Linked DNA regions of Homo sapiens. The protein of the gene in region 1 interacts with the protein of each later gene in a pairwise test. Each region holds a gene or a part of one and is shown in the gene's direction. Other genes may lie near its edges.

The links.
Region 2: the proteins of CWF19L2 (region 1) and CARD10 interact in binary tests that used the Homo sapiens proteins (3 or more experiments, as listed by UniProt).
Region 3: the proteins of CWF19L2 (region 1) and CWF19L1 interact in binary tests that used the Homo sapiens proteins (3 or more experiments, as listed by UniProt).
Region 4: the proteins of CWF19L2 (region 1) and CCDC136 interact in binary tests that used the Homo sapiens proteins (3 or more experiments, as listed by UniProt).

Annotation. Positions count from the first base shown.
Region 1 is NC_000011.10:107,426,815-107,433,841, reverse strand, and holds part of CWF19L2 (CWF19-like protein 2), read left to right. Parts: intron 1-92; coding exon 93-208; intron 209-4,390; coding exon 4,391-5,043; intron 5,044-7,027.
Region 2 is NC_000022.11:37,509,389-37,516,415, reverse strand, and holds part of CARD10 (caspase recruitment domain-containing protein 10), read left to right. Parts: intron 1-117; coding exon 118-443; intron 444-5,994; coding exon 5,995-6,204; intron 6,205-7,027. UniProt on the Homo sapiens protein: Scaffold protein that plays an important role in mediating the activation of NF-kappa-B via BCL10 or EGFR.
Region 3 is NC_000010.11:100,257,628-100,264,654, reverse strand, and holds part of CWF19L1 (CWF19-like protein 1), read left to right. Parts: intron 1-2,591; coding exon 2,592-2,676; intron 2,677-3,610; coding exon 3,611-3,689; intron 3,690-4,335; coding exon 4,336-4,437; intron 4,438-7,027.
Region 4 is NC_000007.14:128,794,944-128,801,970, forward strand, and holds part of CCDC136 (coiled-coil domain-containing protein 136), read left to right. Parts: intron 1-6,242; coding exon 6,243-6,566; intron 6,567-7,027. UniProt on the Homo sapiens protein: May play a role in acrosome formation in spermatogenesis and in fertilization.

The DNA of each region.
Region 1 (7,027 bases):
ATTTTTATATTTTAGAAGTCATAGAAGCAATACATATTAATTGTATGATAACCACATTAAAAGTATAACTAATATTTAATACTGGAATTTAGTTTCAGTGGTAGAAGATGGTGGATTAAGCTGGCTAAGGAAATCTTATCTAAGAATGAAGGAACAAGCTGAGAAACAAAGTAGAAACTTTGAGGACATTGTAGCCGAAAGATATGGGGTGAGTATCTGTTTTAAGGAGATGCCTCTTATTTTCAGAATTAGGTGAAAAATTAAGTGCCTTTAGCTTTGTTTTGTGCCATGAAGAATTGAATTAATATTTCATGTCTTTATACTACTGAAGTAATTTTCTGCTTTTCATTATTATTAAACATGTATCATATTTTTATTGACATAATGAATGTAAAGCTTAAGTATATAAAACTTAAATGTGGGTGTGTTTAATGTAAAAAAAATTTTCTTATTGTGAGAAAATTTAAACAATGCCGGAAAGTCTGCATGGTACACTTCTGGAGGTAACCACTGTTGAAATTTTTTATATTCCAGAGTTAGGTATATTCTAGAGTTTGGGTACTTTACGGATTTTTTTAAAAGAGTGTATATATACTCTTAAAACAATGAAACTGTGCAACAGTATATATTTTAGAACCAGTTTCCCCATCGTTCTGGACAATCTTTCTATTGCAGTAATTACTGATATTCTTTTTTTTCTCTTCAATTGCCGGGGGAAAGCAGGTTTAGAAAGTAGTAAGATTTCTGGAATATATTTTTCCAGATATTTTCCCCCAGAGTTTTAAAGTAGACTCGTAGAATATGCCCTGGCTTTTTAAACTTAATAATGTACACATAGTTGGATGCCAGTAAATATATACATTTTAATGACCTGTTAATTTTTTTAATATATTTATAGGCTTTTCCTTTATTTATTGGTCAGTAGATGACCATTTATATGCTTTTCCTTTCCCTTGTTAGATAGCACTGTGCTGACTGTCTATGCCCAATGCATTTTGCATATTTTTCTTGTTGGTGAATTACTAAAAGTGAAATTGCCTGTTTAAAGGATATAGACATTTAAAGCAAGGTACATATTGCCAGATTTCTCTACAGAAAGAATGAGCAAATCATACTTAAAAATATCTCTTTTATCACATAATTTTCAACAGTAAGATTAGTTCTTATAGTTCATGCTGTTGTGATTGGCAGAGTTTTTAAGTTTTGCTTTTGTTTTTATACATTTGTTTACTGGTGAATTGGAATTTTATTTTTATTTTGAGGTGGAGTCTTGCTCTGTCACCCAGGCTGGAGTGCGGTGGCACGATCTCAGCTCACTGCAACCTCTGCCTCCTCGGTTCAAGTGATTCTCTTGCCTCAGCCTCCCAAGTAGCTGGGACTGCAGGAGCACACCACCACGCCTGGCTAATTTTTGTATTTTTAGTTTTTAGTAGAGACAGGGTTTCACCATATTGGTCAGGCTGGTCTTGAACTCCTGACCTCGTGATCTGCCCACCTTGGCCTCCCACAGTGCTGGGATTACAGGCGTGAGCCACTGCGCCCAGCCGAATTGGAATTTTTTTACATTTATTTTGACCATTTGTATTTTTTAGTGAATTGACTATTGATATTGTTTTCCATTTTTCTTTTGGGATAATAATTTAAGACTTTTTAATAAATCTGTTCAGATTTCTCCCCCTCGGCTTGATGTTTTTTACTTCGTTGATAATTTGCTATGGATAAGTTTTAAATATTTTTACCTATCAAAATCCCTCATATTATTTTTTCATGAATTAGTGCTCTTGGTATAATTTATTGACAGGCCTTCCCCACCCCACAATCGTAAAAATATGCAGCTGTACTTACTTGAGTGCTTGTTCAGTTTTATTTTTTATGTTTTATCTTTAATTTTTCTGGAATATATATTTGTGCATGGTATGAAATAGGCATCAAACTTTGCATAAGTCTTATATAGTTGTTTGCTATATATTGAATGAATTATTTTTTCTCACTAATTTGAAATGACACATTTGTTATACATTAAATTTTCTCATATACATGGGTCTGTTCCTTTACTCTCGGATCTGTTTCATTGATTTTTCTATCTTTTCCTGGAATTTGTATCATACTTTTCTAATTATTGTGGTTTTCAGTAAATTATGCAGATAGCAAATAATAAACACCTACTATGTGGTAGTCACTATGTGATAAATCTCTTGTTAGTCACCAAAAAAATTAGCTTTGCTTTCTTATGTGTTTAGTTTTCTTAGTAAATTTAGTTTAAGCTCAATAGAAATAAATATTTTTCCAAAATTTGTTATAAATTTACGACTCTTTTTGGAGTTTTTATTTAAATTTAACTAAATGTATAGATAAATTAAGGACAACTAGTATCTTTATAATATAGAGTCATCCCATCCCAAAACACTATTTATTTATGCTCTTCAGTATTTTTCTCTGTGCAGTTATTATGCATATGCCATTGAGGTTATTTTTATTTTTTTATATTATAAATTGAATTTTAAAAATGTTTTCTGACTTGGTGTTGGTGCTGGTCGGCCAATTCTTTAAACTTTTATTATCCTAATTTTAAAAATTTTGGGTTATGTGGAAAGGTAGTTATATGCAAATAATTATTTTGTTTTTTTCCTCTCTGTTAATACTTAAACTTTCTTTTCTTCTTGAAATAGTTATAATTTTAGAACTTTGATAACAGGATTGGAAGCTGGTATTGCCTTTTTGTCTAAAGACAAAATAATGACTTTTGCATTTAAGATTAAGAGTATCATGTTTAAGTATCCTTATATTCAAAGTTGAGTAAAAGGTACTTTTTTGTTTTTTTTTAATTTTATTTTTTTATTTTTTATGTTGTATATGTTTAAGGTATGTATTCCATGACGTTTTGATATGCATGGGGAAATAATTACTAGAGTTAAGCAAACTAGTGTATCATTTATCTTACGTAGTTATTCTCCTTTTTTTTTTGTGGTAAAAATACCTAAAATCTACTCTCTTAGCAAATTTTCAGTATATAATGTGATATTATTAACTGTAGTCCTCATACTGTACATCGTATCTCCAGGCTTAGTTATCTTACATAATGGAAACTTCTGACTCTTTGACCTCCATCTTCTCATCCCCTCTCCTTCCAGTAACCACCTTCCTACTTTCTGTTTCTATGTATGATGCATCTTTTCCTTGAAAATTGTTTTAAAGTTTGCAACTACAAGAACAGTTATTTAGACTTGACCATTGCATTTGACATTTGGTTTTTAGCATCTGTTCTTTTTTTCAGAGATCTTTGCCCGAATTCATTGATGGTGTGTCTTAATCATCTTGAGTAATTTTTTTCCCTCAGAATTGCTAGTGATATGCCCTCTGATTCCCTGCATTTTTGAAAATGATTTTCTTTGGCCCATACCAAGGAAGGATAATTTGACTGTGAATTGAATTCTCTATATAGAATTATAGCTTAATTTTGTTTTCAAAATTTAATCTTCATTCTATTATTTACTTATTATTATGGATGAACAGCTGTAAGTCTGTCTTTCCTTTGTGGATAATTTGTTATTTATCTACCCCTATCCATATACAGGCTCACACTTATTCACTCCTTCCCTGATCTAGTCCTTGTAAAGGTTTTTTTTTTTTTCCTTGAGTTTTGAGATTCAGGTATTAGGGTTTTTTTCTGTGTTTTTCTTCTTTCTCCCCCACCCAAGGCTATTGGATGAGTCCTTCTGAGAAATCGGCTGGGGAAATTTTCTTATATATTTTTAAAATTAATGCTCTATTCCCATCATCTTTGCTCCATCTTTCTGGAAGTACTAATAAATGCATATTAGATTTTCTAGAATCAATTGTTCATGTATCTTTTTTTCTTATAACTTACATTTATTTACTACCTTTTCCTAAAATATAGAGAATTCCCAGGTTAATTTAGTTTTCAGCACTGTCTTTTCTTCCTTTTGGTGTATCTTGGCAGCTTTTTGGGACACACAATTTTTTATTTCCAAGTCTTTCTTGTTCTTGAACTATTCTGTTTTTTTTTTTTTTTTTGGTGAGAATCTGTTTTAGCAATTTAACCTCTTGAATCTCACAACCAGTAGGAATTAAGTATTTTTTGCAAAGTTTGTCTCTACTGTTTTCTGTGTTATACTTTGTGTTAGTGCAGAGTGTTTGGTGTAACTGGCTATCCTTTTGGAATCTTTTTGTTATTTAATAATTTTTAATTGTTTACACATTTTTAGAAAGTATTCGTTTCCGTATAGGATGATTGTATGGGTCTTCTTTCACCCCGTTAGTGGGCTTTTCAGTGTGCCACTTGGCAGTGAGTCATACAGTGACATGTGGGGTGCAAGTCACTGAGCCGTTCCTAATTTTAGATATCTTGTTTAATTTTTCTCCTTTGTAGTCAATGGAAATATTTCAGTCAAAATTAGAAGATGCTGAAAAAGCTGCATCCACGAAAGAAGATTATAGACGGGAACGGTGGAGGAAACCCACATATTCAGATAAAGCACAAAATTGTCAAGAAAGTAGAGAATCAGACTTAGTAAAATATGGTAACAGTTCAAGGGATAGATATGCTACAACAGATACTGCAAAAAATAGCAATAATGAAAAATTTATTGGTGATGAAAAAGATAAGAGACCTGGGTCTTTAGAAACGTGTAGAAGAGAATCTAACCCAAGGCAAAATCAAGAGTTTTCTTTTGGCAATTTGAGAGCTAAATTCTTGAGACCCTCTGATGATGAAGAACTGTCATTTCACAGCAAGGGCAGAAAATTTGAACCACTTAGTTCATCTTCAGCATTGGTAGCTCAGGGCTCTTTGTGTAGTGGTTTTAGAAAACCCACCAAGAACAGTGAAGAAAGATTAACATCATGGAGTCGCTCTGATGGGAGAGGAGACAAGAAACATTCAAATCAAAAGCCATCGGAAACCAGTACTGATGAACACCAACATGTTCCAGAAGACCCAAGAGAAAAATCACAAGATGAAGTCTTGAGAGATGACCCTCCAAAAAAAGAACATCTACGGGATACAAAGTCTACATTTGCTGGGTATTTTATCATTTTTTAACCTAATAAGTTAAGATCCAGAGAGTTCAAAGAACAGAACTGTATTTTTAGAACATCAGTTATTAGCTGTGACTATGATCTCACATTTCTTAAAATTGATAGAAGGGGTAAGATATGCAGATTTAACAGGCAGTATTGTGGTATGGATTGCATTTTATTTCATAGGTTTTTTTTTTTTTAAGAGCTGAAAGCAGTAGCTATATTTGTTCAAAATATGTTGCTGCTTTGCAATTTAAAAAACTGAATGAGTTAATGTTTTAAATGTATGTGCTGCAGGAGATATTTTGGTAGATTTTGTTACCAATGCCATTACTTTCTAAGGAAATTATCTTATTGTTGAGTATAATCATAATCATAAATACTGCATGTCTATAGGAAGTCTAGGAGACAAAAGGAAAACACGCTGCCACGGCCCAAATATAAAGTGACAAATACATGCCAGAGATCTTGCAGAGGGGAGCATGAATTATGGTTGTTATTTTGCACAAAGAAAGAAATAATCCACTTTGGGCAATTGACAGATTTTAAAGATAATATTAGAGTTTTAAATATAAAATATATGTTGCATTTATGTAGGGCTGGGTTAGAAGATGAGGAAACCCAGGTTGAATGGGACTAAACCTAAGAAAATTTGCTTTAGAAATTTGCTGGCCCTGTTGGAGATAGCCAGAAAAAAAAGTGTCCAAAGGGTAACAACTTACACGTGAATGATCATTAAAATATGTTTAAAAATAGCACCAAATGAGTGGGACACTAAAGGAAGAGGTTTTAGGAAATAATAGAAACACATGGTTGTAGTAGATAAAAGCACTGTGGTTTGGGGTTGTGAGTCTGATAAATCACTTTTGTTAATGACTCCATCTGAAGCAGTGGATTATAAAACTCAGTGTGTAATTTTCGGTGGGAGGGAGCTGGCAAAATCTGAACTGAGTGATTAAGCCCCAGTCAAATGGACTCTGGTTCACATCAGGGCTTTCCTCCCAGGAAGTGGAAGGAGAAATCCAATTGTATTGACTAAACAAACATGGCAGGGATTATTGTCTAAGGCTGTATGCATATGTAATTGTCCAGTCTTCACTCCAGGTGCCCTGGGTGGTAGACTATTTCCAGTTCCCAGTCACTAGGGGAATGAGGCTCTTATTTCCTGATATCATTAGGATTGGGTTAGCATTTGGATGATCTGTAGGCCTTCTTCTGTGACTGTAGCTAAGCAAAATGTCTGCAAAGTAATACCACACGATTAGTATTCCAACCGGTTGTCTGATTGCTGCATATTTGTATGTCTTATTTAAGTTGTAAGCTTCTGATAGATACACTATAATACAGGCACTCACTAAAAGCTGTGTATGTATATAATTTTTCGGTTTGAAGACAGCACTCACTAAAAGCTATATATGTGTGTATATATATGTATGTATACATGTAATTTTTCCTTTGAAGACAGTATTCTTTGTTCGCTGTGTTAATTTGATGGTACAGAGGGTTTGAGGCTTTCTATGAATTCTGTGACTGGCTGGAGAGGGAAAGAAAAATCTAGGAATCATCCAAAAAAAAAGATTCCTGAGAATGTAGAGTGGTTGTAAAGTAGGAGACCAAGACAGGACCTTGAAGAATGCCTAGTTGTTACAAATAATCTTTGTCTTATAAGTGAATGGTCATGATTGGAAAAATTAGTTGAATTAGTTTTTACTTCTTTGTATGTATTGTTCATATATCTTTACCTTTCTTGTTATTTACACCAGTATTATTTTTTAGAACATGCCATTTGTAATCTTAATAAATGTATATGTATAAAATTTAAACAATATAGACAGAAGAGTATAAAACAAGAATATGAAGCATAGGTGAGTATAAAATGAAAAAGTAAATCTCCCTTTCATGTCACTTCCAACCCTAATCCTATTTGCCAGGTTAACAGTGTTGGTAGTGTCTTTCCAAATTTTTTAGTGTATTTGAAAATGTGTAA
Region 2 (7,027 bases), on another chromosome or scaffold:
TATATTCCAGAATTTCCCTCTAGTGTTTTTATGGTTTGAGTTTTTTGACACAGTATGTTATCTCCTGGATTTTACTTGCCTGAGCTGCCTATTCTGTCCCCTGTTCTGTCCTGGCAGATGAGGAGGGGCCTGAGGGCCTGACCCAATTCTTGATGACAGAGGTGCGACGGCTGCGGGAAGCTCGCAAGAGCCAGCTGCAGCGGGAGCAGCAACTGCAGGCCCGGGGCCGGGTGCTCGAGGAGGAGCGGGCAGGGCTGGAGCAGCGGCTGCGGGACCAGCAGCAGGCTCAGGAGCGCTGTCAACGGCTGCGGGAGGACTGGGAGGCGGGCAGCCTGGAGCTGCTGCGGCTCAAGGATGAGAACTACATGATCGCCATGCGCCTGGCACAGCTCAGTGAGGAGAAGAACTCGGCTGTACTTCGCAGCCGTGACCTGCAGCTGGCGGTAGGCCCTGGGGAGATGGGTCGGGGAGGCAAGGGAAGGGGCAGCTTTTGCAATGTAGTAGCCAGCCAGCCTGTGTCCCAGAGCCACCATTGCTGGCTCTTTGACGTGGATAAGTCCTTTTAGTGCTCGGTGTACCTACTTCATTGGGTTATGACTGTGGTTCTCAATGGGGGGTGATTCTGACCCCCTAGAAACATCTGGCCATGTCTAGGAAATATTTCTGGTTGTCACAATTAGTGGGGATTTATTGGCATCTGGTGTGTAGAGGCCAGGGATGCTGTCAAACGCCCTGCAGGGCACAGGACAGTCCCCAGCAAAGAATTACCTAGCCTAAAACATCGGTAGGGCCGGGGCCAAGAAACACTGGGTTATGAGGATTTGATAAGTTGTTTTTTTTTTTTTTTTTTTTGAGATGGAGTCTCACCCTTGTTGCCCAGGCTGGAGTGCAGTGGTGTGATCTCGGCTCCTTGCAGCCTCTGCCTCCCGGGTTCCAGCGATTCTCCTGCCTCAGCTTCCCGGGTAGCTGGGATTACAGGCTCGTGCCACCACACCCAGCTAATTTTTGTATTTTTAGTAGAGATGGGGTTTCACCATGTTGACCCGGCTGGTCTCGAACTCCTGACCTCAGGTGATCTGCCCGCCTCGGCCTCCCAAAGTGCTGGGATTACAGGCGTGAGCCACCGTACCTGGCCCGGTGAGTTTAAGACACAGTTTCAAACATGTACAGTCCCTAGCACACTGCTCACAACTTGTGTCATCAGTAGCCATTGTTGATATTATTATCAAGAGACACATAGGTTAAACATCATGTCTTCTAATCCTCACCAAAGCACCATACGCCAAGCCCTCATTTGCAAATACAGACTCTGAGACTCAGATTAGTGAAAGGACTTGCTCAAGGTCACAGAGCCAGGAAGCGGCACAGCCTGGATTTGAACCGGGTCCGGCTGGCTCCAGTGCCAGCCCCCTTCCCACGCTGCTGTTCCGCCTACTCCCTGTGTGGGGAAGTCTCACCTGACTCCCTCCAGCAGCAAGTGAGGCTGTGCCTCCTACTGCATCTCACTTTCTTGGTTTCTGACTGGGACTCAGCAGGGGGATAATACCAGTATTTGACTGCCACAGGGCGTTGTTCCAAGGATTTAATGAGCTGATCCACGTCAAGGGCTTAGCAGTGCAGGCCGCACGGCACGCAGGAGGCTCTCTCCAGCCATGTTGCTCGAGGCTGCACAGTGGGTTCTGACCGTGGAGTTTGAAGCCTCCCTACCCCAGGAGCCTTGGGCCGTGGCTACAGCATTGCAGGTGGCTGTGAGGCTGTAGATGTGGGTGCACTGGTGTGCCAGTCCTCGGTTTGTGCACGCCAGGTGGGTCGATATCTTGGGGAGGTGAGCCCTGATGGGGGTGTTGAGGCCACCAGTTGAAGGGTCCAGGCTGCTGGTCCTGCTTGAGGATGTAGGTGGCTGGTTTGAGGTTGTGAGATGACCTTGAGGCTATCGTTCGAGGGCCTGGTTGGTGTGTGGCAGGAGACGGAGGCTTTCTGAGGAGTGATGGGCAGGGACAGGGACATGTCCCAGGCCTGCTCTACTGTGAAAAACCATGTGGCATGGGGAAGGCTTTCCTTTCTGTGCCTCAGTTTCCTCATCCTCATCACAGATAAGGATGATGTAACAATTATAAAACGGCCTTGTGCTTTATAGATACCATCCTCAGTGCTTGCCATGCACAGACCCCTTTAATTTTCCAGCCACCCTACGCTGGGGTGGACAACACTATCTTCCCCATTTCTAGAGGAGGAAACTGAGGCACAGAGAAGTTGGTTAGAGCACTTTCCCAATGTCCTGGGATTGAAGGAATTTTTTTTTTTTTTTTTTTGAGATGGAGTCTTGCTTTGTTACCCAGGCTTGAGTGCAGTGGTGAGATCTTTGCTCACTGCAACCTCTGCCTCCCACGTTCAAGCGATTCTCCTGCCTCAGCCTCCTGAGTAGCTGGGATTACAGGTGTGTGCCACCATGCCTGGCTAATTTTTTTTTTGTATTTTTAGTAGAGATGGGGTTTCACCATGTTAGCCAGGCTGGTGTCAAACTCCTGACCTCAGGCGATCTGCCCGCCTCAGCCTCCCAAAGTGCTGGATTACAGGCATGAGCCACTGTGTTCAGCCGGATTGAAGGATTTCTGAGTTGGCTCTCAGCACTGCTGAGGGGCGGTGGCTGGCAGGTAGGAGTGCTCCCCTTTCTTTACCCAGAGGGCTTCCCCTTTTTTCTGAAACAGACATGGGGCTTGCTGTAGGGTTTTCTCAGAAGAAATAATTTACTGCTTAGAGAGGACGGCGTGAGGGCTGCAGGCTGGGGGTACTGGGAGGGGCTGCAGCCCTCACGGCTTGTCCCACCTTTGGGTTGGGTGTGATGCGATTGGGAGATGTCCTGCGTGTGTGGCCATCTGGGGGCTGCTGGGACAGGGGAGGGGGATGGAAAAGAGATGGTCGGAGGTGCCTCTGTAGTCTGCAGGTCATCTGCCTCTACGCAGAGTGGCTGCTTTTTCCTATTTTAGGGACCTAAGAAGTGAAATTGGCCAGGCGCAGTGGCTCATGCCTGTAATCCCAGCACTTTGGGAGGCTGAGGCGGGTGGATCATGAGGTCAGAAGATTGAGACCATCCCGGCTAACGTGGTGAAACCCCGTCTGTACTAAAAATACAAAAAATTAGCCGGGCGTGGTGGCATGCACCTGTGGTCTCAGGGACTCGGGAGGCTGAGGCAGGAGAATTGCTTGAACCCGGGAGGTGGAGGTTGCAGTGAGTCAAGATTGAGCCACTGCACTCCAGCTTGGGCGACACAGCGAGACTCTGTCTCAAAAAACAACAACAAAAAAAGAAGTGAAATTAAACTTAGCTACTATAAATTTACCTTAATTTATAATTTATGTTTGGAGCTTTTCTGCTCCAAAATTAACAAAGGTGTTGCAGATGGATCTGAACAGAGCACCTGATCGTGCCTGGCTTGGCGGCTTGCATCCCCACCTCCCATAGGCAGGTGTGTGGCGGCTGGGATTTAATACCCTGTTTTATAAGGTGCAAATTTAATGAGCTGTTATTTCTAAGCAACATAAACTGAAGGAACGAACGCTATAATTTTGTGCTCAGTGAGTTTGTACGCCGGGATTAAATGCATCCGTATTTCCTGTTGCTCGTCGGAGACTCCCAGGTGTCCTGTCCTCTGAGCTCATCAGGGAAGCCGGCTGGCCAGGGGTCAGGCAGGAGGCCCTGGTGTGTGGCTGCGGTTTGCTGAGAGGGTGTGACCACAGTTGTCCTTGTAACGAGCTGTCTTTCTCTGGCTGTTCACAAAGCATGTTTTGTGAGTGGAAAGGAATGCGGGAGTCATGAATTTCTTTCTGAGTCTCTTGCGGAGGAGGAGGAGTGGACTGTTAATTTGTAGAATTGCCTGACCCAGCCTCCAGACCCGTGTGTGTGTGTGTGTGTGTGTGTGTGTGTGTGTGTGTGTGTGTGTGTGTGTGTGGAGGGGGGGCTGCCATTCTAACCTCTCAAGGCTGGGGAACTAGCAAGTCACTTTCCAAGAGAGGCCAGGGGACTCCTAGGGCACCAAATATTGCATGCCTGACTGTAGCACCAGAAGTCATTGTGACCTTTTCCCAACAATGACTTCATTTTATGGCCTGCCACCTGCTGCCACTCTTGTCACTGTCTGGCCACCTCAGACCCCACATGCGTCACGCTTGGCTGAGTGCACTCATAGTCCAGCAAACTGGCCATGCACGTCTGCTCCCAGCTTGGTGGTCACACCACAGCTGCCCACCCCCCATACCAGGCCAACTTCTGGCTGCACACTCCGAACTGGTGATTGGTTAGGGGCATGGGATTTTGTTTGAAGCTGTGAAGACAGCCACGGTCACACTGTGGCAGCTCTGTAGCCCTTCATAGTTTAGAGGCCTCTGCCCACTTGCTGTCTTGTTTGATTCTTGCAACACCTTTGGGAGGCAAATGATGGGGCCAGGGGATTGACTGGGCCCATTTTACTGATGAGGAAACTGAGGCCCAGAGGAGGTAAGTGACTTGCTCAGGATGACAGAGCCTAGAAGTAGCAAAATTGAAACCTGAACCCTGGAACTGGAGCTCTTGAGGGAGATGAACCAACAGCCAAATCTTCTGGAGTGGAGGCTTTGTTAGGAATTCCTTTCAGGGTGGACCAGACCAAGTCTGAGTCTCTGAGAGTGTGTTGAGGTGAGATGTTGGCTTGTTGCGGGGAGCATCTGGTTCCCGGACTGGATGAGTCCCTCAACTCTCAAAACCATTGCCCTCTCCTCTCCCCTCACACCCCCCCCGTACAGATGAGATGATTGAGGCACAGAGAGGGGCCATGACTTGCCCAGGGTCACACTGAGCTAGAGACGGAGCTGGGGTCTGACCCTGTTTTTTTTTTTTTTCTCCTTCTTTCTTTCTTCTTTCTTCCTTCTTCCTTCTTTCCTCCTCCCACTCTGCCCTCCTCCCGCCTCCTCCTTCTCCTTCTCCTCCTCCTCCTTCTCCTTCTACCTCTTCCCCCTCCCTCCTCCTCCCCTCCTCCTCCTCACCCCCTTCTCCTTCTTCTTCTTTTTTTTTTTTTTTTTTTTGAGACAGGGTCTCGCTCTGTTGCCCAGGCTGGAGTGCAGTGGCACGATTATGGTTCACTGCAGCCTCAACCTCCCAAAGCTCAAGTGATTCTCCCGCTTCAGCCTCCTGAGTAGCTGGGATAATAGGCGCGCACCACCACACCCAACTAATGTTTTAAATTTTTTTTGTCGAGACGAGGTCTCACTGTGTTAACTAGGCTAGTCTCCATCTGCCCGCCTCGGCCTTCTAAAGTGTTAGGCCTGGTTTCCCTTATTCTTTTTTTTTTTTTTTTTTTTGAGACAGAGTCTTGCTCTGCTGCCCAGGCTGGAGTGTAGCGGCGCAATCTTGGCTCACTGTAACCTCCATCTCCTGGGTTCAAATGATTCTCGTGCCTCAATCTCCCTAGTAGCTGGGACTACAGGCATGTGCCACCACGCCCAGCTCATTTTTGTATTTTTAGTAGAGACGGGGTTTCACCATGTTGGTCAGGCTGGTCTCAAACTCCTGACCTCAGGTGATCCACTGAGGGCCCGCCTCAGCCTCCCAAAGTGCTGGGATTACAGGCGTGAGCCACTGTGCCTGGCCCCACTTCTTCTTGATGCGGCCCTCCTCCTTTTCTGCCATGAGAATACTGGGCTAAATTGACGGGAGTCAGTGTCAGAAGTGCGGGACAGACAGCGTGTCGTGATGCAGCATGTCCGCCCACAAGTTCTTAGAGTGGATTCCCCTGGGAGGGTGTCCTTGGCCTTGCTACCCACTGCTCCTTCCTCAGCCCTGTTTGTTTTATATCTGTCCAGCCTGTCCTGTTTTCATAGACAAGCCTGGGGAGGACTCCTGCTTCGGCTTCTCTGGGAATCTGGGAGGCACCCAGGAGTGAGGGAGCAGGTCTTCCCACCCCTGTAACCCGTGGCTCCCAGTGTGTCTCCCTCTGGGCTGACCCATGTCTTGGGCTCCAGGTGGATCAGCTCAAGCTCAAAGTGAGTCGGCTGGAGGAAGAGTGTGCACTGCTTCGAAGGGCCAGGGGCCCGCCCCCTGGGGCAGAGGAGAAGGAGAAGGAGAAGGAGAAGGAGAAGGAGCCAGACAATGTGGACCTTGTCTCTGAGCTGCGTGCTGAGAACCAGCGGCTGACGGCGTCACTGCGGGAGTTGCAGGAGGGCCTGCAGCAGGTACCAGGGCCAGGGCTTGTGGGCACAGGCTGGGGGGTGGTCAGGAGGGCCTGCAGCAGGTACTGGGGCTTGTGGGCACAGGCTGCGGGGTGGGGGATCAGGAAGGCCTGCAGCAGGTAGCAGGGCCAGGGCTTCTGGGCACAGGCTGGGTAGCGGGGCTCAGGAGGGCCTGCAGCAGGTACCAGGGCTGGGGCCCATGGGCACGGGGGTGGGGGGTGGTCAGGAGGGCCTGCGGTAGGTACCAGGGCTGGGGCTTGTGGGCACAGGCTGGCAGGAGGTCAGGAGGGCCTGCAGCAGGTACCAGGGCTGGGGCCCATGGGCACGGGGGTGGGGGGTGGTCAGGAGGGCCTGCGGTAGGTACCAGGGCTGGGGCTTGTGGGCACAGGCTGGCAGGAGGTCAGGAGGGCCTGCAGCAGGTACCAGGGCTGGGGCCCATGGGCATGGGGGTCGGGGGAGGTCAGAAGGACCTGCAGCAGGTACCAGGGCTGGGCCTCGTGGCCATGGGGGTTGAGGGGGGGTCAGGAGGGCCTGCAGCAGGTACCAGGGCCAGCGTTCATGGGCACAGGCTGCGGGGAGGTCAGGAGGGCCTGCAGCAGGTACTAGGGCCAGGGCTCGTGGACATGGAGTGGGGGTGGGGGTCAGACCCGGAAAACAGGCCCTCTTGCTGTTTGCTTATCCTCCCAAGGCCTGGGAAGCTGAGGATTTCAGAACCAGGGATCTGAGATCTGGATGGAGTCCCGGTAGCCTCTTGCCTGAAGCTCTGAGCTGAGGGCCCTTAGCACGTGGCTGTCCCTGGTTGTCTGGTCTAGGGTGTGTGAGCAGC
Region 3 (7,027 bases), on another chromosome or scaffold:
ACCTGCCTGAGGCTTTTTTACAGTCAACTTTTTTTTTTTTTTTTTGAATACGTAGGAGTGTACTCTAAACAGTAAAGAGCATACCATACTGAATATATTTTTTTTTTTTTGAGATGGAGTCTTGCTCTGTTGCCCAGGCTGGAGTGCAGTGCCGCGATCTCAGCTCACTGCAAGCTCTGCCTCGTGGGTTCATGCTATTCTCCCGCCTCAGCCTCCTGAGTAGCTGGGACTACAGGCGCCCGCCACCACGCCCGGCTAATTTTTTGTATTTTTAGTAGAGATGAGGTTTCACTGTGTTAACCAGGATGGTCTCGAGCTCCTGACCTTGTGATCCGCTCGCCTTGGCCTCCCAAAGTGCTGGGATTACAGGCGTAAGCCACCGCACCTGGCCATAGCATGCTAAATATTATACATAAACCAGTAACATAGTTGTTTATTATCATTATCAAATATTGTATACTGTACATAACTGTATGTGCTACACTTTTTATAACCACCAGCCCAGTAGGTTTATACCAGCATTACCACAAACAAATGAGTAATATATTGCACTATGATGTTACAAATGGCTAGACATCACTAGGCGATAGGAATTTTTTAGTTCCATTATAATCTTATGGGACCACCATTACATATGTGGTCCCTTGTTGACCGAAACATTGTTATGTGGCACGTAACTGTATTCTTGTCTTTAACCTAAAAAGGTTATTGAAATGCTTAAGAACGCTTTGGCATGATCAAATTTTCATTTTGGAAAGCAGTTCTGTCTGCAATGTGGAGAACAAATCAGAGCCAAAGTAGAGAACAGCTGGGATTAGGTAGAGTGATGACAGAGGAATAGTTTAGGGATTCAGGGTTTATTAAGGAAGTAAAATCAACAAGGCTTGTGATGGTTTAATTGTGAGTGAAAAGGAGCTGGCCTTGTTGGGTCATAGATTTCTATCTTTATTCAGTGGGATAGAGAACAGTGGAAAAGGGCCCAGATGAGGAGATGAGGCACCTGGTGATGTATAAACTGGACAGTGGATCTCCCAGAGACAATGGTAATTCCGTGTGACAACTGCTGTGATGGAAGAAATGCAGGCTCCTATGGGAACACTAGAAATTGGTAACTGATAGGTACTAGAAGGCTTCCTAGAGGAGGTGGTGCTCAAAATATAAATAAAAGTCATATTAGTTTATGACAAAGCTTTCTCTGAAATGCTGTAATGTGGTTTTCTGAGTTTTTGAGAAGGTAATGACTTCTGAGCCAGCCAGGAAGGCTTCAGAAATGTGCTAAACCTTGAAGGATGGGAAAAACTTGGATTTAGGATGGGTAGGGTGGAACTACCCTAGGGAATGACAGAGGCAGAGAGTAATCAAATTGCCAGTTCAGTTAAGAAAACTTGGAGAAAGTACTAGAAAGGTGACAGGTCAGGGCCTGTGGAAAGCTGTGGTTCTATAGGCAGTGGGGAACCTCTTAATGTTTTGAGGAAAGAACATTAAACTGACTACTTTCTGTAGGATGGACAGGAGGAAGAGAAGGCATTAGAGGAAACATAAATGTATTCTCTACTTTGAATCTAACACTAGATGCATTGTATTTTTGTCTGATTCTTCCTCTGCCATAGGAAGGGGGTGAGGTGGGGTGGAGTGGAGTGGAGGTTGCAGTGAGCCAAGGTCGTGCCACTGCACTTTAGCCTGGGTGACAGAGTGAGACCCTGTCTCAGAAAAAGAAAAAAAAAAAGTTTGGCGAGGTGTACAATAAAAGCACGCCAGAAAGAGACACTCACAAAACAATAAAATTTTAATATTTCAAGATGAGTTAAAAGACATTAAGGAAATGATATAAGCCGTGGAAAAACCACATAAATCAGAATTAGAAAATCTCAGAAATGAGATGATAGTAAAAGTCACTTCACAACGTAGGGCCAGTTTACCTTACCAATGTCAGCTCTTGCCATTTTCTACTTCCTGCCCCATAACACTTCACACATACCTCTGTTGTAGCCCTTTTCTTATAAATTTATAATGATTAGAGTGTCTTCCTTTCCCTGATTATAAACTCTTTGAGGCTTAAACTGAGTCTTCCTCCACCTTGTACTGCTAACATGTTTTTAGCATAGTATACTTGGCATATTGTACTTAGCGTATGGTAGGTGTCCAGTACCTGTTTATCAAATGAATGACTGAAGCCCTGTACTAAGATAGGAGGAGTCGTACTAAGATAGGAGGAGTCAAAATAAGAAGGATAGAATGAATGTGAAAGATGTTTGGAAAAAGGGATTGATGGGACTTGGTGACTGGATGGGGGATTTTTGACTTTTGTTGACCATGTCAGCCATAGACATGTCCACAAAACTTAGGAATGAGGAGAAGAAGCTGGCTCAATTGTGGAGTAAATGATAAGCTAAATTTTAGATACGGCGAGTGGGAGGTGTTGGTGAGACCCTCAGTGGATCTGCCCAGTGGTTTACGTGCACTGAACCTTGCAAGGTAACTGCAGAGAGACTAGATCATGTATCTATCTAATCCAAAAGACCAGTATATACCAAACCCGGCAGGCCCATTTGTTTCCTGAATTGCTATAATGTTTATCTCTTTGTTTGCAGCTTGGCTTGTGGAGATGTTGAAGGAAAGTTTGATATTTTATTCAATAGAGTTCAAGCAATTCAGAAGAAAAGTGGAAACTTTGATGTAAGATGTTTGTTTTTACTGAATTTAATTTTACCTTTGTAGTCACACATAAAAATAAAGTTTGCACTCCTTTAAGTCTTGATTGAACACATACCATTTTTGTTAAATTGAGTTCCCTTCATGAGCATAGGAACTTAGTAGCTGCTGAGTGGCTGGGGGAGGGAGACCTATTTACTGTTTACTATTGATCTTTATATTTTTTGAATTTGAATATTGTTACTTTATCACTGTACAAAAAACTGAAAACAGACTAGCAACACTTCCCTAAGTGATTCTGACCTCTGGGTTTGGGAAGCACAGATCTATTTCATGAATGTGATGAGGATTAAGTCAGGTAACATACATACCAACCCATCACAAGCTTAAAAGCTCTATATGAATGTTGTGTATGGTTGCCAACTAGACTGTAAACTCCTAAGAGTACAGAAGAGAGTATTCCAGGTATGAGGATAATTTGTTCATTGGGTTAAAGGTTGGGTAAAGACAACAGGCAGGAAATGTGTTTTTTATACCTTGTATTTCTCAGATTCTAATATTTTAAGTTTTTTTGTTTCACACGGGGATTCTTTAAAGATCTATTTCTATGTGACTGTATATTCCAGGGAAGGATATGTGGAGAGAGCCATGAATGGCAGAGTGGGACTGGGAATTTGAGGAGCACTTGAATTCTAACTTACTTTAAAAGTTTAGTTCCTTGACTCTCTCTTACCCATCTCTAACTTGAATTTGACAGCCAAAGAGCCAAAACTTAATAATTCATAGAATCAGTAACTGTTAACAGTTGCTGCTAAAGAATTGTATATTGAAATCTGCAAATTGATTAAGAATTAAAAACTGATTTGAAACTATTAAATAACTAGTTGAATATTACTATCAATTATGTACTGTTTGATATTTTAAAATCTCATATATCTGTTTAAAAAACTCATTTTAGCTGCTGTTGTGTGTAGGAAATTTCTTTGGCTCCACCCAAGATGCTGAATGGGAGGAGTATAAGACTGGCATCAAGAAAGGTATAGAAATTATTTTTATTTAACATATGATTTCTAATAAAATTTCAAGGGCCAGAGTTCTTGCAGAGTTGTTTTTCATTATTTAAGAATTTAAGAGTTATTTTCAGTATTTAAGAATTTAAGTTGCTTTTCATTATTAAGACTATCCGGCGCAGTGGCTCACACCTGTAATCCCCGCACTTTGGGAGGCCGAGGCATGTGGATCACCTGAGGTCAGGGGTTCAAGACCAGCCTGGCCAACATGGTGAAACCGTGTGTCTACTAAAAATATAAAAATTAGCAGGGCATGGTGGCGCATGCCTGTAATCCCAGCTCCTCGGGAGACTGAGGCAGGAGAATTGCTTGAACCTGGGAGGCGGAGATTGCAGTGAGCCGAGATTGCACCACTGCACTTCACCCTGGGCGACAGAGCAAGGCTCTGTCTCAAAAAAAAAAAAATAAAATAAATAAAATAGCCAAGCTACAAGGTTGGGTGTAGTATATCCTTAGTGGATAGCTGTTCCACATTTAGGATTGCTAAATATGGGGAATGTGAATGCATGGACTATTTACTTTTAATATAAGTATTTTTTCTATAGAGAGGCATATCTTAAGTTCTAAAGCAGATCTGGTAACTATATGGTGTCATGTCTGTTTCCCTCACTAGCTCCTATTCAGACATATGTGCTTGGTGCTAATAACCAGGAAACAGTAAAATATTTCCAGGATGCTGATGGATGTGAATTAGCTGAAAACATTACTTATCTGGGTAAGCTGATACTTGTTGTATTTTTTTTTTGTTTTTTGTTTTTTGTTTTTGAGACGGAGTCTTGCTCTGTCACCCAGGCTGGAGTGCAGTGGCGCAATCTTGGCTCACTGTAACCTCCACCTCCCGGGTTCAAGTGATTCTCCTGCCTCAGCCTCCTGAGTAGCTTGGATTACAGGCGTGTGTGACCATACCCGGCTAATTTTTTTTATATTTTTAGTAGAGACAGGGTTTCACCGTGTTAGTCAGGATCATCTCGATCTCCTTACCTCGTGATCCGCCCACCTCGGCCTCCCAGAGTGCTGGGATTACAGGCGTGAGCCACCGCGCCTGGCCGATATTTGTTGTATTTGTAATGAACATAATATAGTGTTCTCAGGAATTAGTCTCCCAGGAAATTTTTGGCTAGATTTTTCAGTGATTGCAGCCTGAGATAATGGGGTTTGGAGGGTTTTTTCCCAGAGTCTGTATATGTGCTGCTGTGCCCTTAGGACAATGCCTTTAGGACAGTGGCATTTTTTCTTTATTATTTCTACCACTTAGCCCCAATATCGTTGCGTTCCCACAACCCGGTACACACTTGTTTAGCCAACTGGAGGGATAAACTCCTTGTCTATAGTATATGGGATACTTAAGGTATAAATTATGTTCACACAAAGGAAATTTCATGTATGTGGCTTTACCATACAATCTTGCTAGGTATATACAGCTTACTTGTTAATGAGCCTCCCAACTATTTATAGCTCTAGGTTTCACTCTAAGGTTTTGGCAACTCAGGTTTTTAGTGCTGTTCTTTGGGGGCTTTTTACTCTTTTTTTACTCTCCTTTTTCTGGTTCTAGGTACACTCTTCAGTTCCAGCTTAAAGTTGTTTCCTCCACAGCCCTCTGTATTGCTTTTAGTGGCTCTTTCAATGTCTGGCTGTTTTCAAAAGCACTGTCAAATTTTGCTTTTGTTTTCCCCCCACCTGCTGGCAGTCTGCTGCCTCTTAGATCATTCAACTCTTTTTTTTTTTTTTTTTTAAGACAGTGTCTTGCTCTGTTGCTCAGGCTGGAGTGCAGTGGCATGATCTCGGCTTACTGCAACATCCGACTCCCTGGTTCAAGTGATTCTCCTGCCTCAGCCTTCCGAGTAGCTGGGATTACAGGCACGCACTACCATACCCAGCTAATTTTTGTATTTTTAGTAGAGACGGGATTTCACCATGTTGGCCAGGATGGTCTCGATCTCCTGACCTGGTGACCCGCCTGCCTCAGCCTCCCAAAGTGCTGGGATTACAGGTGTGAGCCACTGTGCTCGGCTTTTTTTTTTTTTTTTAGTTGAATTTACTATTCTTCACATTTCCTCCTTGTTGGTCTTATTTCTCTAGAAAACTTCTTCATTTCCTTTGCTGTAAATGTCCTCTCTCTCCTTCCCCATCATAGTTCATCTTGGCCTTTAGTCTTTATTTGGCTATGGCCCTCCCGTTACCAGTCTTATTTTGCACTAATCCTGTGGGACTTCTTTAAGCAAAAATTGAAGGAAGGACTTTATTTGTTTTGTTGTTTTAATATGGAACTCTTCATGAATTTGCATGTCATCCTTGTGCAGGTGCCGTGCTAATATTCTCTTTATCTTTCCAGTTTTAGTATATGTGCTGCTGAAGTGAGCACTGTTTAGTTTTAACTACACATATCAGATACGCATTTTGAAATTCTGTTGTAGATTTTAACATGAGCCTGACTTATGCAGTTCTTGGTATAGTTTGTAGATTTGGATTAAGGGCATTACTGTAGATATTTGGCAGCCATTTTACTATATGAATTTAGTGCCAGGAAAGGAAAGAGCAGCTAAGGTACTTGGGTTATTTCTGTGAAATAGATTTTTTGGATCCAGTAGGAGGATCAAGCAGTGAACTTGGTAGTGAACATGTGATAGTGAGCTTGAAATACTGGTAGGACATCCAACATATAGTTGGAAGTGAGAGTTATTATTATTATTTTTTGAGATGGACTTTCGCTCTTGTTGCCCAGACTGAATTGCAATGGCATAGTCTTGGCTCACTGCAACCTCTGCCTCCCGGATTCAAGCGATTCTTCTGCCTCAGCCTCCTGAGTAGCTGGGGTTACGGGTGTGTGCCACCATGCCCGGCTAATTTTGTATTTTTTAGTAGAGACAGGGTTTCACCATGTTGGTCAGGCTGGTCTCGAAATCCTGACCTGAGGTGATCCAGCTGCCTCAGCCTCCCAAAGTTCTGGGATTACAGGCATTAGCCACTGTGCTGGTCCGAGAGTTCTTTCTAGAGTATCAGTGTTGAAGAGTATAGGCTTTGGAGAGTTGGTCCCATAATGATGAAAAATAGAGCTGAGAAGAGGATCAAATTATTAAGGAAGAAATACAATCAGAAGGGAAGCAGGTTGATGATAGTACCTTGGTGGGTGGGGATGGTATATCTTCATCTAGGGGGTAGGAACAAAGACATAAAAGTGCTTAGAGGACTGTTTGAGAGGTAAAGATATTGTCAACTTCATGGAATCTACTGAAGATAACATAGTTTCAGGAGAACATTGGCAAATATAGGGTGACCTTTAAGAGAGTGATGGGAGAGGGAAACTG
Region 4 (7,027 bases), on another chromosome or scaffold:
TGTCCCCAGTTTTCTTTCTTTGCACATCTACCTGGCTCTTCTGTCCTCCCCTTCCATTTCTTGGCCTCCCTGTCACCTCCTGTCCCTGGTGGGCTCTTTCCTCTTGCCCCTTCAGCCTCCTCCTTCATACTGCATCCCTGTCCCTTTGTTCTCCTGGTCAGTGCCAGGGGTGGGTGATCCAAGTTGAATTCCAAGCCGGATTCCTTTTTCTGGTTCCTCCAAGGATGGCATGGGAAAGCATGAAGCCAATGAGAAGTGACTGGTGGGGCCTCTCTGCACCTATTAAGAGAGACAGATGACAGCACTTCTGTTGCTGCCTGGGACCTGAGCTTGTGGGCCCCAAATCCCTTTTTGCCAACACCCACGTCCCTTTGTCTCTGGGAAGCAGCAAGGCAGATGCCCCACATTCCACCACACCACCAAATAAAGAGGCAGCTTTTGTTACTTCTGTGGGCCTCCGGAAGGTTTAGGGGAGCTGCCCTAGAAAACGGCAGGGACTCTGGGGAGAACTGAGATCAAGCCAAAAGAAAAGTATAAATGGAGAAAAAAAAGGAAGGCCAGGAAGCAGGCCTGGACAGGAGCAAGCAGAGGTGTAAGTGGGGAGGAGAGGAGACGGGGACAGAAAATGTAAGCAAAGGTAGATACAGGAAGGGTGGTCAGTGAAGGGGCTTGCAGAGGAGGAAAGTGGCAGGACACGTGTCACATAGGGAAGAGTGTGGGCATTGATCTGGGATGACCTAGATTCCTGGGCCCAGCTATACCACTTAGAAATTGTGTGATCTTGGGCAAGTCACTTATCTTTCTGAGATGTCATTTCTTATCTGTAAAATGGGACTAATTTATTTATCACCTATTTATGAGGTGCCTTTATACTTGGAGGACCAGCTGTGAATGAGACAGACCACATCTCTGCCCTAATGAAGAGTACATTCTAACGGAGAGAGGCAGAAAATAAACAACACAAGTTCAGATGGCAATAAATGCTATGAACACGATATAATAATATGATACAGAGAGGAGGTGGGATGGGAGTTTATTTTATTTTATTTTGAGACAGAGTCTTACTCTGTTGCCCAGGCTGGAGTGCAATGGCACAATCTCAGCTCACTTCAACCTCTGCCTCCCAGGTTCAAGCGATTCTAGTGCCTCAGCCTCCCGAGTAGCTGAGATTACAGGCATGCGCCACCACACCTGGCTAATTATTGTATTTTTAGTAGAGATGGAGTTTCACCATGTTGGCCAGGCTGGTCTTGAAGGGAGTTTATTTTAGATATGGCAGTTAGGAAAGTCATCTTTGAGAAGATGACATTTGAGCTAAGACCTGAATAATGAAAAGGATCCAGCCATCCAAGATCTGAGGGAGGAGCATACCAGGCAGAAGCAACAGCAACTGCAAAGGCCCAGAGGTGAGAATGAGCTTCATTTGTTTGAGCGACAGAACAGAGGCCACTGTGTTTGCAGCAAAGTGCACGTGGAGGACCCTGGCAAGAGAACGTTCTGAGGCAGGCAGAGGCCAGATTACAGTGGATCTTGTAGGCCAGCCAAGAGGTTTGGCTTTCATGTTAAGTGTGGTAGAAAGCCAGGAGAGGGTCTTAGCCAGGAATGGGATGATACGATCTGCTTTACATTTTTAAAAGAGAACTTGGCCACTAAGTGGAAACACTTAAGATGGAGGGAAGTGACTCAGAACAGTGAGTCCTGTCAGCAAGTTACTGCAATAGTCCAGTCAAGAGATGATGGTCGCTTGAGTTAGGGCTGTAGAAATGGAGATGATTCAGAATATATATATATATATATTCTTTTTTTTTTTTTTTTTGAGACGGAGTCTCGCTCTGTCGCCCAGGCTGGAGTGCAGTGGCGGGATCTCGGCTCACTGCAAGCTCCGCCTCCCGGGTTCACGCCATTCTCCTGCCTCAGCCTCCCAAGTAGCTGGGACTACAGGCGCCCGCCACTACGCCCGGCTAATTTTTTGTATTTTTAGTAGAGACGGGGTTTCACCGTTTTAGCCGGGATGGTCTCGATCTCCTGACCTCGTGATCCGCCCGCCTCGGCCTCCCAAAGTGCTGGGATTACAGGCGTGAGCCACCGCGCCCGGCCCAGAATATATTTTGAAGGTGAAGCCCTCGGGATTTGCTAATGAATTCGATCAGGGGATAACAGAGACATGAAAGATGACTTTGCCTTGAGAAAATTGATGGAAGGTGGTGATGTTTATTGAATTGGGAAAGACTTGGCAAGGGGTAAGTTTTGGGGCTAGGGGAGCCATTTAAAACATGTTTTCCTCTGTTGAGTTTGAAGTAACTGTGGACATCCAAGTGAATATATTGAGGCAGTTGGATATATAAAGGCAGAACCAGGGAGAAAACAGGGCCGGAGATGTAAATTTGGAGTCATTAGCATATAATTGGCATTAGAATCCATGGGAAATAATGGTGCAGTCACATGGAGAGACACCAGAAGAGGAGAAAGGGTCCAGTCCCAGAGACACTCCAGTATTTAGAGGTCCAGTATAGAAGGAGAAATGAACAAAAGAGTAAAGTGAGAGGAACTCCTGGAGCATGTCATGCCCTGTAAGCCAGAGCAGAAAGTGCTTCAAGGAGACAGTGATCCACTGTGTCAGGTTGCTAAGTCAAGTGAGATGGTCTTGGATTTGGCAAGAGAGAGGACCCTGAGACATCTCAGTGCATGGAGGCACCGATTGGATTGGGTTTGGAGAGGAAATGGGAGATGAAGGTGAGTACCGATAACTCCAGTAGTCATTTTGAAGAGAAGCAGAGAAGTAAGGGAAATAGGGTCAAAAGATTATTTCTTTTCTTTTTTCAAAGGTAGGAAATGCTAGATCATGTATAATGAAAGAAAAGATCCAGTACAAAAAAAGGCCTTTGCCTGGAGAAGGAACGTTCCTCCATTCAAACGGGCGAAAAGTCAGAATTGAAGCAGAGATGCAGGCAGGAACTACCTGGGAAAATAGGGTTCTATTTTTTTTTTTTTTGAGACGGAGTCTCGCTGTGTCGCCCAGGCTGGAGTGCAGTGGCGTGATCTCGGCTCACTGCAAGCTCCGCCTCCCGGGTTCACGCCATTCTCCTGCCTCAGCCTCCCGAGTAGCTGAGACTACAGGCGCCCGCCACCACACCCGGCTAATTTTTTGTATTTTTAGTAGAGGCGGGGTTTCACTGTGTTAGCCAGGATGGTCTCGATCTCCTGACCTCATGATCCGCCCGCCTCTGCCTCCCAAAGTGCTGGGATTAAAGGCGTGAGCCACCGCGCCCGGCCGAAAATAGGGTTCCAGAGCGATTCTCTCCTCAGTAGAGTTTTTTGTTTGTTTTGAGACGAAGTCTTGCTCTGTCACCCAGGCTGGAGTGCAGTGGCGAGATCTTGGCCCACTGCAACCTCCTCCTCCTGGGTTGAAGCAATTCTTCTGCCTCAGCTTCGCGAGTAGCTGGGACTACAAATGCCAGCCACCACACCCGGCTAATTTTTGTATATTTAGTAGAGATGGGGTTTCGCCATTTTGGCCAGGCTGGTCTCCAACCCCTGATCTCAAGTGATCCACCAGCCTCAGCCTCCCAAAGTGCTGGGATTAAAGGTGTGAGCCACCGTGTTTGGCCGACAATACCATTTTTTTAGGGCCAGAAGCACCTAAGAGAGAGTTGAACCCTAACATCAAAAGCATATTAGGGAGGTGGAGGTTGGTCTGTTTCTCCAGAACACCCACCCCAGACTCTAGGGCCTTTGTCCTAATGGCCAGCTTCCTCTTGTGTCTCCCTAGCTAGACAGACCTCACTGTGCTGCTCAGTAGTGGGGGTAGAGCGGACTTTTCTTCCAATAGGAAGTCAGAGAATCTAACAGGAGATTCTTGGCCTTGGCACGCAGTTAAGGATCAGTTAATAGTTGTTGAATAGATCAAGGAGACGTAACAGCTAGGATCATTCTAGAACTGGAAAGATTGGCAAAAGACATGCCCATAGTTCCACATGTGAGCTCAGGGGAGCAGGGTAGATCTTCCCCTGAGATGCCCTCACCACTCAGCATCTATCTATGAAGCGTGTCCAAATTTGTCTTCTTTGAAAGTCTAGATTCTATTCTAATTTTTAAAAAATATCCAAACAGGGCCAGGTGTGGTGGCTCATGCCTGTAATCCCAGCACTTTGGGAAGCCAAGATGGATCGCCTGAGCCCAGGAGTTTGAGACCAGCCTGGGCAACAGAAAGAGACCCCCATCTCTACATTAAAAAAAAAAAAAAAAAAAAAAAAAGCAGGGCATGGTAGCCCATGCCTGTAGTCTCAGATATTAGGGATGCTGAGGAGGGAGGATTGCTTGAGCCCAGGAAGTCAAGGCTGCAGTGAGCCATGATCATGCCACTCCACTCCAGCCTGGGCAACAGAACAAGACTGTCTCAAAAACAGAAAGGAAAACCCCCCAAACCCCAAATGTTTAGTTCTGTACACATAAGAGATACTTAGCAAAAGTTTGTTGAATAGATGAACTGCTGCCTTACTTATGCATGAATACATCAAATATCTATTGAGCTTCGTTTTCAGGCACAATACTAGATCCTGGAGCTGTAATGGTGAGCAAACCAGATATGCTCTCTGCCTCGATAAAGCTTATAACCAAGTGAAGGGGAGACTTAAGTACACACACACATATAGCAAAGTACAAGGTTTTATGAGACCATTTAATAGAGGACTTCTCTTATTTTTTTTTGAGGAAGTGGAGGTACAGGCTAGAAAAGTTGACATCTGAGTGGTGAGTAGAATGAGCAGAAGTTGGGGGAAGGGGATGGGAGAATGTGCCTTGCAAAGGATTTATGGGAAAATCCTGACCCTCCCAACCCAATCCTCATTAATTCTCTAATCCTGGCCCTCAAATCCTAAATTCACTGTTGGTGTCAGTGCCTTTTACTCTCTCCACTTTTTCGTTCTGATCCCAGATGGGTACATGTGTCTAGAAACTCTGAGATGCTCCATAGATACAGAGAACTCTTAACTCATTATTTTGTAAATTAAAAAATAGAAAATATAGGCTTGTTCTGAAAATCCAAACAGCACAGATAGATATGATATGTAAAGTAAAAACCTTACCACATGTTATCCCATACCTCAGAAACAACTACTCATTATGGTTTGGGCATAGATCTTTCCAGGCCTTTTTCTATATGTTTGTCCATTTGTGTGTTATATACTATACATAAAATATTTTTTGCAAAAATTAGATCATAGCATATATTTTACAGCTCTTTTTCTTCAGTTAATATGGAAACTTCTTTGTTTTCACCATAGATCTGATACTTTCTTTTAAATGGCTGCATGATATTCTATTTAACTATCATCAGTTTATTTATTTATTATTGTTATTATTTTTCGAGACCGAGTCTCACTCTGTTGCCCAGGCTGGAGTGCAGTGGTGCGATCTTGGCTCACAGCAACCTCTGCCTCCCGGGCTCAAATGATTCTCCTGTCTCAGCCTCCCAAGTAGCTGGGATTACAGGGGCGTGCCACCACACCTGGCTTTCTTTTTTTTTTTTTTTTAGCGAAGACTGGGTTTCACCATGTTGGCCAGGCTGGTCTTGAACTCCTGACCTCAAGTGATCCACCTGCCTTGGCCTCCCAAAGTGCTGGGATTATAGGCGTGAGCCACTGCTCCCAGCCTATCATCAATTTAAACAATCCCTTATCGACTGACACTTAGATTATTATCCCGTGTTTGGTTATTATGCAGTGAACTTATATTTGAATTTGAGTTGTGAACTCTAAATGCACATTGTTTTAGGTCCAGTACTTACCACAGGTAGGTCATGGGAACTCTGAGGCTCTGTAATTTCTGAGCTCTCAGGATGAATAGGTGAAAATAGTCTGTATACATTTTTTGAGTCAGGGGATTTTTAGAAAGATTCAGGGCATCAAGAAAATACTATAAATGAAGTTAGGTCTTTAACTGTCAGGTGATTCCTTAGAAGCATGAAATACTTTTTGTTTACAGTAGACTAAGTGATTGTTTTGGTGCCAGGCCTCAAAATCTACTTTTCTATTGGACCTTACTACATAGAGTCACTCTCTTTTCCCTTCTTAGGTACTCCTTTTATTCCGTCCGGCATGATGCTACACTTCTCTGATGGGGTAGAGACAAGGTTTTCAGGACTTTGCAGACAAGAAATAAGTCTCCCTTTAATTTTGTGCCTCTAGAACATGGTAGGTTAGTTCACCTGCCCTCTTGATCATCTCAACCTTTGGACTTTGCAGGTGAGCTGCGTTCTCTACGGGAGGAGATTTCCCTGTTAGAGCATGAGAAAGAAAGCGAACTTAAGGAAATAGAACAGGAATTGCATTTGGCCCAGGCTGAGATCCAGAGTCTGCGGCAAGCAGCAGAGGATTCCGCAACTGAACATGAGAGTGACATAGCATCCCTGCAGGAGGATCTCTGCCGGATGCAGAATGAACTTGAAGACATGGAACGCATTCGGGGAGATTATGAGATGGAGATCGCCTCCCTCCGTGCAGAAATGGAAATGAAGAGCTCTGAACCATCCGGTAGTTTAGGTCTCTCAGATTACTCTGGGTTACAAGGTATGAGAGCCATCAAGTGGGTCAGTAAAGTCAAGCAGAGGAAAGGAGATAATATATAGGAAAATGGTAGAAGGTGGTGTTAGATCATGAATTGGGAATCTCTAGAAAAAACCTCCAGGTTGAATTCAAGACTGTAGGGGTCCAGGCGTGATGGCTCATGCCTGTAATCCCAGAACTTTGGGAGGCCAAGATGGGAGGATCACTCGAGCCCAGGCATTCATGAGCAGCCTGGGCAATGAAGTGAGACCCTATCTCTTTCTAAAAGAAAAATTTAAATAAAAATTTTAAAAAGACAGTAAAGGGGAAAAACCTACCCAGATGTTACATAACCAGTCCATGGTGGTGTAAGAAATAGCACCATGGAGAGGTACCCTGGGAATTCTTCAGAGAGTCATTGGGTCTTTGTTGATTTGACTATGGGAAAACCCTTCCTGGGAAAATTTCCAGCTCTAGGATGGGCA